Homo sapiens: one gene and its partner. The protein of the gene in region 1 purifies or fractionates together with the protein of each later gene. This does not show direct contact. Each region holds a gene or a part of one and is shown in the gene's direction. Other genes may lie near its edges.

Region 1 (8,140 bases):
AACAAAAAGACAAGTGGTAAATTAGGAGGGAAAAAAGTGAAGCAACTTTTATTAAATACCATGCAACCATCTGGCACCACTCCGCAAAGTTGATTATTGACTAACTTTAATAGCAGACATTTTTGTCTATTCCTTTAAACATTTTGTGGAGGAAATGTCCTCTGTATTGGGGGGGGTGGGGGGACAGTTGGAGGTGGGGGGCAGATAGTGGTTGAGTGTGAGTTGGAGGGTAGAAGGAGGAAATTAAAAGATGCATTGATAAAGCAGTAGGGTACAGGAGTTATGCAAGCAATAGTTTATGTAAAGCCACAGAGAGAGTGGCTTATGCCAGAAACAGCAGGTCCTTCCAAATTTCTCAAGCTTTGTCCTTGCTAACAGTAAGCAAGCCTAGGAGGGGATGCTTGAAGAACCTGGTAAGCAACTGCCCGGCTCTCCCACTAACAAGTCCATGGATTTCTCAGTTAAGGTTACTTAAAATTGCAAAAGCTATTCACTTGCTGAAGATTGTCAAAAATCACTGAATTTTATAGCTTTAAGAGAGAATCTTACAGATCAAGAAGTCCCAAGCCTGTATTTTTCCAGATATAATCATTTAAACAATCCTAACCTTTGTGAGGAAAGTATAGGAGGCCAGGCAAGGTAGACAGAGCTTGAGGCCTTGGCAGTTGCTTCCTTTTGATCTCTAGGGGAAGGGGGTGGGGGTTAATATGTATTCATTAATTAATACCAACATTGTATTGAAAAAATTGCAATTAGTCAATGATAATGGGTTCTTCTGAACATTTTACATGACAAACAAATATTCTTAAGTTTAATTTCAAAAAGACGTGGAGTTTCTTTCTATTTTTTTTTTTAAGATGGGCCTTGCTCTGTGCCCTCAAACTCCAGTCTACAATCTCAAACTCCTGGGCTCAAGAAATCCTCTTGTAGTAGCTAGGACTACAGGCATCTCTCACTACACCTGGCTAGTTTTTTTTTTATTTTTTGTAGAGACTGGGTCTCACTATGTCTCCCTCCTCAGCCACCCAGAGAGCTGGGATTATAGGTGTAAGCCACTGTGCCAGGCCTAGCCCTGGAGTTTCTAATACATTGGTGATACAACTCTGAGATTTCTAAGCATGGATTTGTAAATGAAGAGCTGGAGCTTAATTTTTCTAATTCACACAGCACTGTTTCAACATTGTCTTATTCAGTGGTTCTCAGCCTGGGAAAGAAGGAGAAAGGTGATTTTGCCCCCCAGAGGACATTTGGCAACATTTGGAAACATTTTGGTTGTCATGACTGGGAGTGTTATAGGTATCTAGTGGATAGATGCCAAGGATGTTGCTAAACATCCTACAATGCACTGGACAGTCTCTCAAGGAAAAATGATCTGGCCCAAAATGCCAACAGGGTTGAGATTGAGAAACTCTGGTCTAATCTGAACACTCTGAATATTATTAAAACATATGGTGAGATCAAGAATTTATTACTGCATTTTCGTTAATACCAATTTGCTCAAAGGCAGTTTGAAAAACAGACCCTGACTAAAATTGCATGTGCGTTATACAGGGAAAAAAATATGACACATTTGTGATTTGAAAAGGAAAAAAAGCTGAAGGGAAAAAATTAGATATTTTTATTCATAAGAGCATTGCCATACAATTTTCAATGCTCCAGAAAAATAACCTTCTTCCATTGACACTGTGCTGAAAGAAGTGAGTAACAAAATGGTTATAAACTATCCTTCTCACAAATTCTAATCTATTATCAGACTGTTATTTCTAAAATATATTAATACACCATCTAAAAAACAGCCCTCTTATCAGAAGCTATGATACATAATAAGTCAGAAGATAAATGCACCAGTAGGAATTTATTATAATTTTTTTAATTTCTCTGGATTACAGGGCACGTAAACTCTGTAGGAGGTGCTTATTGGAGAGTAATTCTGTGATCCAGAAGACACTAGAATGTGTTCAGCCATTTAGCACCCACCCACCCCCTTTCTTTTCCCTTTCCTGGTAAATTTTCCTTTATGTTCATAAGGACAGATGCCATTGCTGTGGGAATCACTCTGGTTTAAGCCTCTTGAGAAAAACAGTAGCTAACTATATTAGTCCGTTCTCACACTGCTATAAAGAAATACCTGAGACTGGGTAATCTATAAAGAAAAGAGGTTTAGTTGGCTCACAGTTCCACTAGCTGTACAGGAAGCATTATGATGGCATCTGCTCAGCTTCTGGGGAGGCCTCAGGAAACTTACAATCATGGCGGAAGGTAAACAGGGAGTATCACCTCACGTGGCCACAGAAGGAGCCAAAGAAAGGTGAGGGGGAGGTGCCACACACTTTTGAAGGACGAGATCTAATGAGAACTCACTCACTATACAGTACCAACTGCGGGGTCGGGGGGCAGGGGTGGCAGTGGGGGTGGTTGCTAAACCATTCCTAAGAACTCTGCCCCCATGATCTAATCTCTACCTCCCACCAAGCCCCACCTCCAACACTGGGGATTACAGTTCCACATGAGATTCGGGCAGGGACACAAATCCAAGCCATATCACTAACCTTATCTAAATACTGGCCAATAGGATAAGCAAAATCATTTTTATAGCTTCCTTCAAAAAATCTTATGTATTAAAATGTTGAAATGTATAAGAATTTCATCAAAATAAGAACCTCACCAGATCTGACCCAAGGGAGAGAAGATTGTTCAATAAAAAATTACAAATGGATGAATAAATGAATCCTCTCCTTTCAAGTTCTGTGCTCCATACAACAAATCTAGATGGGTCTCATTTAGATGGGATTTAGAGACACCTTTCTTAAATACCTATCATTTTACGAATGAAGCTGTTGTCTAAAGAGTCCTCTTGGCCACTTCCTGAAAACAAATCAATTATTTGTGATAACTCTCAAATGTCCTAATAATCCCATGGAAAATGTAAATGTAATGAGGACCAAGAATTATAAGGTAAGAAGTGCTAATGTCAGATTTTTACCCACTACATAAGCCCACTCTTGTACTAGGGCAGTGACTTTCTTCTTTGGGTGAGACCTTGAAATCTGGGATTATAATTTTGAATTATAATTATAAAATGGTATTTGGCTGTAAATTATCTCCTTTTTTTTTCTGTTCCTCACAGTTGATATTATGGATTCCCATAAGGATTCATGTCTTCTATTCACTTTAATGAACAGTTGTTGGGCAACAATTCTAGAAGAGTTCCAATTCTCATCAGGAGAATGGACAAGGTGGAGAAGCAGAGAAAATGCAATGAGTAGAATGTCTAAGTCATCACTTTGGAATTGACTGAACATAAATAAAAATGAGAAAGATACGTAAAAAAGAAGGGAATGGGTAAGCAGGGTGATGTCTGGGAGAGGAGGGGCTCCATAGCCATGAGAGTCAACTCTGTAACACCCTATAGGGTTACAACACTGCCCTTCATATACTGAGGTAGCAGCAGGGAAACTTTTTAATTATTAGAAATATTGAACTTTGCCTCCCACCCCCAAACATTTTTCTCATTCAGTTCCTGTTCTTTTTTATTTCTGTAATTTTTACTGTTTCAAAAATGATCTTTTTTCTTTCGGAAGAAGCAATTCTTCAAATCCAGTTCACATAAGGGGATTTGATATGTTCAACAAGCTCCAAATACACTGTATCCAGCAATACCTACTACATGCCTACTTTGAGCTCTGAGCAACCTGCACCTCAAGCCTAGTTCTCATTGTTTTGCTTTTGGCAAATTTTCACTAAGTGCCCTTCCTCCCCAAACACACGTATATGTCTACCAGACCCTAAAGCCCTTTATGAACATGCAAACTCCTCCCTTCTGAAAACCTTTGCGTGAGTGGTCAGCAGGCTAATTCATCCATTGCAATGTGGCTTTGTGTTAGGGTTCTGTTTCCGTGCTGCCTGCAAGATAATCACAGATGTGACTGCATCTTAGAAGTTCCTGAATCTTTCAAGACAGTCTGGTTCACAAGAAAATTAAAAGGTGGAGGTCGGGCGCGGTGGCTCACGCCTGCAATCCCAGCACTTTGGGAGGCCGAGGCGGGCGGATCACCTGAGGTTGGGAGTTCGAAACCAGCCTGACCAACATGGGGAAACCCCGTCTCTGCTAAAAATACAAAATTAGCCAGGCGTGGTGGTGCATGCCTGTAATCCCAGCTACTCGGGAGGCTGAGGCAGGAGAATCGCTTGAACCCGGGAGGCAGAGGTTGCGATGAGCCGAGATCGTGCCATTGCACTCCAGCCTGGGCAACAAGAGCGAAACTCTGCCACACACACACAAACACACACACACACACACACACGGTGTAGTTTAGGAAGTAAAAAAAAAAAAAAAAAAAAAATCAGATCTCCCCTCACACCTCAGATCTGAAGGCACAAACTCTAGGGCCAGGGCGTTCGCCTACCCAACTCCACATGCACTTGCAGGTCACCTAGCACTCAGGTACCTAGCACTCAGGTACATTGTGGCTCCTTACCTCTCACGACAGCAGCAACAACGTTGATTGGAAGTTTATCACTGTGTGTTACGGGCCATGGGCCATGTGTGTTAGAATTTTATGTGAAATTAACATTTAATTCTCACGGACACCCCTGAAACAGATGCCACAGCCCCCATTTTGCCAACGAGGCAGCTGAGGTTCCCAGAGGCTCAATACCAGCACCATGAGCCGCAGCACGCAAGGCAAACACAGCCGGAGGTGAGCACATACCTGCTTCGCACCCCATGCGCCTAACCACAAGGTTCCCTCCCTCCAGGAAGGCCGTTGTCTTCCCTGGGACGACTTGCCAGCTCTGAGGCATGACAGTACGGGCCCCCAGAAGGGTGACCAGGAGGCCCTCCTCGTCCCAGCTGCCGGCGTCGCCGCCCACTGCAGGGCCCGGGCTGTGACTCGTGGGGACGGTTCCCTGCGCCCCGGCGGGGGAGGTGGGCGGGGAGGGGCGGCGGGGCGCCGGGGCGGGGCTCGGGACGGCCGGGCTGGGAGCTGGAGCCCACAGCGGGAAGCGGCCGCCGCCCGGGCCTCGCAGGGCTAGGCGAGGCGAGGGGGGGCGGGGCCGGGCGCTACGGGAAGGGGAGGCCGCGCGGACCGGGAGCCGCACCGCGCCAGCCGGGCTGCAGCGGCCGCGCACCAAGGCTGCGATGGGGCTGGAGACGGAGAAGGCGGACGTACAGCTCTTCATGGACGACGACTCCTACAGCCACCACAGCGGCCTCGAGTACGCCGACCCCGAGAAGTTCGCGGACTCGGACCAGGACCGGGATCCCCACCGGCTCAACTCGCATCTCAAGGTGAAGCCCGGGGCGGGCGGGCCCAAGTCCCCGCTGAGGCCGGGAGGTGCGGGCGCCCCTCAGCCCCGCCCTAACCCGTCCCACCATTGCTACCGGGTCGGCCCCGCAGGGTCTGAGACCCGCACCCTTCCCCGGTCCCACCCGTCACCAGGCCGCCCGCGTAGCCAGGAATTCTTAGCCAGGTTCCTGTGCGCCCACCGTGACCCTAAGAGAAGAGGCGGACGCCCTGGCACGTCCTTCCCTCCTGCTTCCCCCGCCCAAAGCGCTCCCGGTTCCCGGGGCGTCAGGTTGGCTGACAGTTCGGGGTCCCTGCGTCCTGTCTCCTCAGCTGGGCTTCGAGGATGTGATCGCAGAGCCGGTGACTACGCACTCCTTTGACAAAGTGTGGATCTGCAGCCATGCCCTCTTTGAAATCAGCAAATACGTAATGTACAAGTTCCTGACGGTGTTCCTGGCCATTCCCCTGGCCTTCATTGCGGGAATTCTCTTTGCCACCCTCAGCTGTCTGCACATCTGGTGAGACGGGGCACACCGGGTGGACCGGCTTTCTGAAACATGGGCATATTCTCCGCCACCTGCCCCCTACTCTCCTCTTATCCCAGGCCGGCGTCAGGAGGAGGAACGCGCATCAGTTCCCAAGCAGTAGGAAGAACTGGAAGGCCTTGAAAGGCAATGCGCTTCCTTTAGAATAACAGTTTGGGCTTGGAGTTTCAACAGGAGAAAGAATGTCGGTCTTTCCTGGGGTGTGATTTTCCTTGCATACATAAGGCTGGGCTGAGTGTGGAGGCGGGTACCTGGAAGCCACACTTCTTACCACAGGCTGCTCTCGGGGCCCTGTTGTGACTCGTACCTGCGGTTCTGGGCAGGACTCTTCTTTCTTTCATTGCCTTTTATTCAGTCACTGCCTGTGCTTGGGGTAAAACAAAAGTGATCTCTGAGCAGAATGCCGCTGACAGTAGAATTGGATGAGGATGTCAGACCTGGTTAAGCAGTAGTGTGGAGGGGCTGCTTCAACTTTGCCCCTGGCAGATGGCAAGGATGGGACCCAGAGGAAAGGGAGGTGTGTGCAGTTAAGGCGAGGGTCCCCCCCAGTACAAACGAATGAAAACTCCAGCTGCGGGATAATGAATGAGAAGGCCTCCAAATTACTTTTTCACTGATGAAACACAAATGGAAGTGGCATATAATTAAAGGGGAAAGAAATATGGAAGCCCACTGTATATTGATAGGATATTTTGAGTAACTCTATTCATACTCAAAATGTGTCCTAAACTGTAGAGAACTTTCTTAAGCATCTTTTAAATTTTTTATGGAAAATGTCATATTTTACCAATAAATGTTGTTGTGTTAGAAAATATCCACTTTAATCTGAGAGGAAGAATATTCAGATCATCCCCAGTATCACAACAGTTGTCACGCTAGTGCTTCAGGTTAGTCCTGGTGAAAGGTATAACCCAAGGTACCTCCGTGTCTTTCTTACACCTTTTATGATATTGCCACACCCTGATAAATACTCGGTGTTCATTGTTAGAAGTTACCAATTTATCCTTTATTTCTCTATACCACCTGAATCTTAATTTATTTAGTCAGTTAGCTAGCTAGTTAGTTCAACAAACTTTAAATTGATTGAGTGCTTAGTTTGTGCTGGGCACTGGGCCAGGATGAATGAGAGATAGGGTCTGCCTTCAGCTTACTCACAGCCTTATCAGGGCAGCTGGCTAGGTACAGAGATGGACGCTGAGAAAACACAGTCAACTGACAAAGAGGGAGGAACAGACAAGGCTTTGAAGAGTGAAAGGAGTCGAAAAAGACTTTGAAAGGATAAATGAAAATTCACCAAATACGTAAAGGATACACAAAGAACACCAATTTAATTTTATCACTAAAGGTTGTAAACAATTAAACTATGTTGAAGGTGCCAAGATTGCCAGGGAAATGAAAATGTTGCCTTAGTACATGATCAGCTTCATGAAGGTCAAATGGATAGTTATATTCTGACATTTGCACTTGAATTTTTTTTAAGATCCCTGAGTTGGCACATAAGATTTGGGATTCCCAATTAACTAAAACTAATCATCTAACCTCTATGTCAGTTTTCTCACTTTCAAAACTGTGAAAAACTGAGTGACCGCATAGCATATTGTGAAATGCTGACTATGAAGCTATTTGGAAATGTGAAGTACCATATTTATAGTCAACAAAGCTAGGCTTCCCAAAGCTTTTGTGAAAGAATTTGAAAAAAAAAAGTTTCTCATTTACTAAGTGGTGGAAAGATATAAGTAAAACTACAATTAACCAAGCAATGCCTCTCTCCAGCTGGCTCTTCTGAGAATGGGAGGTGTTTTTGTATAGTGCTTCAATTGGTGAATCATCAATGCACCTTTTTTTAGCCACATAAAATGTATTATTTAATATTATTTAACTTCAGCTTGTTTTTTTAACTATATTTATGTGGGGCATTAATATTTAACTGTAAAACATTTGTCACCAGGCAGCTGTGATTGCAAGTAGAGGAGTAATTTCAAACAAGAATGCTTAAAAGTTAGCTATGCCTTGATAAAATAGGTTTATCATTAATAGATTGCATTCCCATGACATGATAAGACCAGATCAAGGACAGACCTTACAGAATTGCAAACCCATTTGGGCAAGCTTTTTTTGTTTTGTTTTCTTTTTATATATATTTTTTAAAGCAGGGGCTTGTGTATTGTTTTTACCAAAAAGTTAGTGGTGACCAAAGCTAGGAAAATATGCAGTAGTGGAACTTTGAACCATGTCACAATATTAAAACAGGTCAGATTTTAGATCCTTTAAACAAACAATCAACAACAATAAAACACAGAAGTCTGG
Region 2 (7,000 bases), on another chromosome or scaffold:
AAAAAAGGGTGTCATCGTAACTTCCTGGGACTGTTGTAGGAATTACACAAGACAGTGTGCAGTAGATGCCTAGTGTGTTGGGAATACCCAGTAAATGGTCCTCATTTTTATACTTGCTATTATCACCATTACAAAACCTTTTCTGAACTTCCCAGCTAGAGTTAATGTTTTCAGAACACTTCGATCCTCTCTTCTAGCTCTTTCATCATTCTGCCTTGTGGTGTAGCAATATGTTGGCTTTTCTGTCAGCCTTGCTGGCCAGGGAGGTGCCAGAGGGTAGGGCCAGCAGGCCTTTTCATTGTTCTGTTTCTCCAGTGCCTGATGGAGGCATCATTCCCAGCTCGCCCTTGAAGAAAGCAGGGCTGCAGGCTGCTCTGGGGATTCCCAGTGGGGCCAGCTCACCCTCTGTCCTGTGGTTGCAGGTGCGGGAATGGAAGGAGCAGGGTAGCAAGACCTTCATGTGCACGGGGCGCCCTGGCTGGCTCACTGTCTCACTACGTGTCGGGAAGTACAAGAAGACACACAAAAACATCATGATCAACCTGATGGACATTCTGGAAGTGGACACCAAGAAACAGGTGAGAGTAGCACTTTTCCGGGCTCTGGGAGCAGGTGGGGCACTGCCCCTGGTGCAAGTGACTCATAGGGAGATGATTTTAGCCAAGGGCATTGCAGAGTGGACAGGACCAATGCCCACAGTCATAGAAGATACTCCCTGCCATTGCTGTCCTCAAGCCTCACAGCCACCAGGGGAGAGATGGGTCATAATAGGTCAGGGGAACCCTTTGCGTTTCCACAGGAAGTCAGGAATGGGGAATTCGTGAGCAAAAATGAGAGGCAAAAAGGAATCTACTTACCCCTTCCTGATAAGGAAGTGTGCTGGTAAAAAATGGGCTACAGAAGTGACTGAGAGACATGGGTCTTGTTACAAGCTTCCTGGAAACCCTCTTGTTTAATAGCCTTCGAAATGTACATACTTTTTGGCCCATCTAGTAATTTTACTTCTCGAAACCTGGCTTAAGGAAAAAGGAAATAGGCTTCAGTATAAAGATACCCAACACAGAGTGATTATATCACAGCTTTATTTCTAATTGACAACAACACAATATCCAATAATAGGGTAGTCATTAAATATGGTATGTCTACTTGATGGCATTTTGTTATTATTGTGAGACCTTGGCCAAGTTACTTAATCTCTCTGTGCCATTTTTTTTAATAGCTTTATTGACGTATTTAAAGTGTGGTAAAACTCTTACCACAATCAAGACAACAAACATACCCATCACACCCCAAAATCTCCTCATGCTCCTTGGTAATCCCTTCCTCTAGCCCCTAGCCCTGCCTCTTCCCCTACCCGCCCCCCACAGCCTTAGGCAAACAATGACCTTTCTGCCACTATAAATTAGTTTGATTCTAGAGTTTATATAAATGGAATCATACAGTACTTTTTGTTTGTCTAGCCTCTTTCACTCAACATCTTTATTTGGAGATTCATCCATGTTGAAAGGTGTGTCAATAGTTCATTCTCTTTCACTGCTGAGTCATATTCCCACACATATTGTGTGGATGTATCACAGCTGGTTTATCCATTCACCTACTGATGGACATTTTGGCTGGCTCCAGTTTGGGGCAATTACAAATAAAATGGAACATTTGTGAACAGTCTTTGTATGGGCACATGCCTTCCTTTCTCTTGGGCAAATATCTAGGAATGGAATGGCTAGATCATAAGGTGGGTGTACATTTAACTTTTTAAGGAAGTGCCAAATTTTTTTTCCAAGTGATTGTAGCATTTTACATTTCCACCAGCAGCGTGAGTGTTGTTCTTGTTCCACATTGTAATAGACTTGATATGGTTAGTCTTAATTTTAGCCATTCTAATAGATGTGTAGTAGTTTTTCATTGTAATTTTAATTCACATTTCCCTAGTGACTAATGATCTTTCCATGTGCATGTTTGCTATTTGTATATCTTCTTTGGTGAGGCCTGATCAAATCTTTTGCCAATTTAAAAAAATTCAGGTGGTTTTCTTATATATTCTGGAAACATCTTTTTTTTTTTTCTTTTAAACTTTTAAATTAAGTGGTACCTGTACAGGTTTGTTATATAGGTAAACGTGTGTCATGGGGTTTGTTGTACATATTATTTCATCACCCAGGTATTAAGCCTAGTACCTATTAGTTATTTTTCCTGATCCTCTCCCTTCTCCCTCCCTCCACCCTCTGATAGGACCCAGTGTCTGTTGTTCCCCTGTATGTGTCCATGTGTTCTCATCATTTAGCTCCCACTTATAAGTGAGAACATGCGGTATTTGGTTTCCTGTTCCTGCATTAGTTTGCTAAGGATAATGGCTTCCAGCTGCATCCATGTTCTTGCAAAGGAACATGGCTGCATAGTATTCCATGGTGTATACGTACCACATTTTCTTTATCCAGTCTACCACTGATGGGCATTTAAGTTGATTCCATGTCTTTGCTATTGTGAGTTGTGCTGCAGTAAACATACACATGCATGTGTCTTTATGATACAATGGTTTATATTCCTTTGGGTATATATACCCAGTAATGAGATTGCTGGGTCAAATGCTGCTTCTGTTTTTTGGTCTTTAAGGAATCACCACACTGTCTCCCACATGGTTGAACTAATTTACACTCCCACCAACAGTGTATAAATGTTCCTTTTTCTCTGCAACTTCACCAGCATCTGTTATTTTTTGACTTTTTAATAATAGCCATTCTGACTGTGTCAGATGGTATTTCATTGTGGTTTTGATTTGCATTTCTTTAATTATCAGTAATGTTGAGCTTTTTTTCATATGCTTCTTGGCCACATGCTTGTCTTTTGAAAAGTGTCTGTTCATGTCCTTTTTATATTCACTTTTTAATGGGGGTTGTTTTGTTCTTGTAAGTTTGTTTAAGTTCCTTATTGATGCTGGATATTAGACCCTGAAACAACATCCTTTATTAGATTCATGATTTGCAAATATTTTCTCACAGTCTGTGGCTTCTCTTTTGAAAACCAGAAGCTTTATTTAGTTTTTCTTTTTGAGACAGAGTTTCACTCTGTCGCCCTGGCTAGAGTGCAGTGGCACGATCTTGGTTCACTGCAGCCTCCGCCTCCCAGGTTCCGGTGATTCTCCTGCCTCAGCCTCCTGGGTAGCTGGGAGTACAGGCATGTGCCACCACACCCAGCTAATTTTTTGTATTTTTAGTAGAGACGGGGTTTCACCATGTTGGCCAGGCTGGTCTCAAACTCTTGACCTCAGGTGATCTGCCTGCCTTGGCCTCCCAAAGTGCTAGAATTACAGGCGTGAGCCACCACGCCTGGCCAAATCAGAAGTTTTAATTTTTCCCAATTTGTTAATTTCTTCTTTTATGCATTGTGGGGGTTTTGTTTGTTTGTTTGTTTGTTTGTTTATATTTTTGTTTTTTGAGACAGAGTCTAGCTCTGTGGCCCCGGCTGGAGTGCAGTGGTGCTATCTCAGTTCTCGGCAACCTCCATCTCCCGGTTTCAAGCAATTCTTGTGCCTCAGCCTCCCAAGTAGCTGGGATTACAGGTGCACACCACCACACCTGGTTAATTTTTGTATTTTTAATAGAGAGGGGGTTTCACCACATTGGTCAGGCTGGTTTCGAACTCCTGGCCTCAAATGATCCACCTACCTTGGCCTCCCAAAGTGCTGGGATTACAGGCGTGAGCCACCGCGCTTGGCCTACTTTGCATTTTGATATTTTATTTAGGAAATCTTTGCCTATCCAATGTCAGAAAGGCTTTCTCCTATATTTTATTGTAGAATTTTTATAGAAACCTTAAAGTGAAGCTCTCTGGGCCTGGAGTTTTCTTTGTAAGGAAGTTTTTAAGCACAAATTCAATTTCTTTAATAGGTACTGGGCTCTTCAGTTTATTTATTTCTTCTTGGGTTAGCTTTGGTAGTTTGTGTCTCAAAGGTATTTGTCCATTTCACTAAGTTGTATAATTTATTGACATAAAGTTGTTCACAATACTTCCTTTAGATATCTGTAGCTATGTCAGGTCTTTCGTTCTTGATACTGGTATTTTGTTTCTGTTCTCTTTTTTTCCTGAACAGTCTGGCTAAAGGCTATTGAATTTTATTGATCTTCTCAAAAGCTAGCTTTGATATCATTGATTTTTCCCTTTGTGTGTGTGTGTTGTTTTCAATTTCATTGATTTCTGCTTTGGTCTTTATTATTTCATTTCTTTTCTTACATTGGGTTTAATTTTACTCTTTTTCCAGTTTTTTAAGGTTAAAGTTTAAGTCATTGACTTAGACCTTTTTTTTCTAATATAAATGTTTAGTGCTATAAATTTTCCCCTAAGCACTGTTTTAGAGGCAGCTCACAAATTTCTATATGTTTTCTTTTTATTTCAGTTCAGAATACTTTGATTTCCCTTTTGATGTCTGCTTTGACCCATGGATTATTTAGAAGTATGTTGATTTTTTATCACTAGTTTTGAGCAATTTTATTATGATGTGCTTTGGTATAGTTTTATTCATAATTCTTGTTTGGAATTTGGCATAATTTTTCATCAAATCAGGAAATTTGGGGGCCATTATTTCTTCATCTGTTTTTCTGTCCCCTCCTTTTTCTCATCTAGTTTAGAGACAGCTAGGCCATTTCAAGTTGTTCTACAGCTCAGGTCATTGAGGCACTGTTCATTTAAAAGAAATTTTTTTCCTCTCTTTCATTTTGGTTGGTTTCTGTTGCTGTGTATTTAAGTTAACTAATCTTTTCTTCTGCGATTTCTAATTTGCTATTAGTGCCATCCATTGTATCTTTCATTTCAGACATTGTGGTTTTCATTTCCAGAAGTTTGATTTGGATTTTTTTTTTTTTTTTTTTTTTTTTTTTTTCAGATGGAGTCTTGCTCTGTCCTCCAGGTTGGACTGGGTGCAGTGGCGTGATTTCGGCTCACTGCAACCTCCACCTCCTGGGTTCCAGCGATTCTCCTGTCACAGCCTCCCGAGTAGCTGGGATTACAGATGCGCACCACCGCGCCTGGCTAATTTTTTTGTATTTTTAGTAGACGGAGTTTCGCCATGTTGGCTAGGCTGGTTTCAACTCCTGATCTCAGGTGATCTGCCTGGCTTGGCCTCCCAAAGCACTGGGATTACAGGTGTGAGGCATTGCACCTGGCCGGATCTTTTTAATATATTCTTAATGTCTCTAGTTAAATTTTCGAATATAGAGAATATAGTTATTATAAATGTTTTGATGTCCCTGTTCACTAATTCTAATATCTATGTCAGTTCTGGGTCTGTTTGATTGATTGATTTTTCTCATTATGGGTTGAATTTTTCTGCCTCTGTATGCCTGGTAAAATTCTATTGGATTCTGACATTGTGATACTCTGACATTTTACCTTTTGGGGAGCTGGGTATTTTTATGTTCCTATAAATTTTGAGTTTTGCTCTAGGAGGCAGCTAAGTTACTTGGAAATAGTTTGATCCCACTGGGTCTCAATTTTTTAGATGGGGCCAGGGAAGTATTTAATCTTGAGTTTATTATGAGGCAAGATCATTTTGAGTACTCTACACAGTGCCCTGTGAATCATCAAGTTTTCTAGTCTGGCTTGTGGGAACAGACACTATCTCCTGCCCTGTGTGAGTCCCTGGTACTATTACCTATTATCTTTTTTTTTTTTTTTTTTTTTTTTTTTTTGAGACAGAGTTTCACTCTTGTTGCCCAGGCTGGAGTACAGTGGTGCAATCTCGGGTCACTGCAACCTCCGCCTCCCGGATTCAAGTGATTCTCCTGCCTCAGCTTCCTGAGTAGCTGGGATTACAGGCACCCACCACCACGCCCAGCTAATTTTTTGTATTTTTTTTTTTTAGCAGAGGCGGGGTTTCATCATGTTGGCCAGGCTGGTCTCAAACTCCTGACCTCAGGTGGTCCACCTGCCTTGGCCTCCCAAAGTGCTGGGATTATAGGCATGAGCCACCATGCCTAGCCTATTACCTGTTGTCTTTTCTGGCAGTTTTTTCCCTGGCTTCAGCCTCAGGTAATAGCCTCATGTGTATTTACCGATTAGTACTCAGTTGAATTCCCAAGGACGCCTTTTGCATTTCTTCAGTTTTTTCTCTGTGCAACTCTCTCCTCTCCAGTACTCTGTCCTGCACACTGTATTCACCTTGGTCTTCTGGAACTCTCACCTCTTTTTTTTTTTTTTTGAGACAGAGTCTCGCCCTGTCATCCAGGCTGGAGTGCAGTGGTACAGTCTTGGCTCACTGCAACCTCCATGGGTTCAAGTGATTCTCTTGCCTCAGCCTCCTGAGTAAGTGGGATTACAGGCGCTTGCCACCACACCCAGCTAATTTTTTGTATTTTTAGCAGAGGGAGGTTTTTGCCATGTTGTCGGGCTGGTCTTGAACTCCTGACCTCAGGTGATCCACCCACCTCGGTCTCCCAAAGTGCTGAGATTACAGGCGTGAGCCACCATGCCCAGCCTCACCTCCATCTTTTTAACTCTTAGAAAGTCCACTGGACTCCACCACCTGGGTTTCCCTCCCTGCACTGCCTAACTCCAGGCAGTTAAATGGGCCATCCCTAGAGCTCACCTTTTTTTAAAATAATTTTTTATTTTTTTATTTTTAGGTCTTGCTATGTTGTCCTGGCTGGTCTCGAACCCCTGGCCTCAAGCAGTCCTCCCGCCTCAGAGCTCACCTTGTTTCCTGTCTCTGAGGGATCACTAACTTTAATTGTTTATGTCCACTGCATTGAAAACTCTTATTTCATATATTTTGTCAGGTTTTTTTTTCAGGCAGCAGGGTAAATGTGGTTCCTGTTATTCCACTTCGGCTAGAAGTAGAAGTCCAAGGGATGTATACATTAAAAATCATGTGTTCCAAGAATGTGTAATGATAAGAGATGATGGTCATAGTATAGTGTTAAATTTTAAAAAGGCAAAACAGAAAATGAGATATGCTTTTGGTTTGTGTGTGTTGTGTTTAAAACATACAAAATAGTGTGAAAGGAAAATC

Evidence for each region.
Region 2: the proteins of CAV2 (region 1) and DHCR24 purify together in Homo sapiens (affinity purification with mass spectrometry; 2 studies listed by BioGRID and IntAct, with this or other methods). This does not show direct contact.

Annotation. Positions count from the first base shown.
Region 1 is NC_000007.14:116,494,642-116,502,781, forward strand, and holds the start of CAV2 (caveolin-2), read left to right. Parts: upstream 1-5,096; 5' UTR 5,097-5,140; coding exon 5,141-5,290; intron 5,291-5,404; exon of another isoform or gene 5,405-5,618; coding exon 5,619-5,806; intron 5,807-8,140. UniProt on the Homo sapiens protein: May act as a scaffolding protein within caveolar membranes. Interacts directly with G-protein alpha subunits and can functionally regulate their activity.
Region 2 is NC_000001.11:54,877,196-54,884,195, reverse strand, and holds part of DHCR24 (delta(24)-sterol reductase precursor), read left to right. Parts: intron 1-422; coding exon 423-578; intron 579-7,000. UniProt on the Homo sapiens protein: Catalyzes the reduction of the delta-24 double bond of sterol intermediates during cholesterol biosynthesis.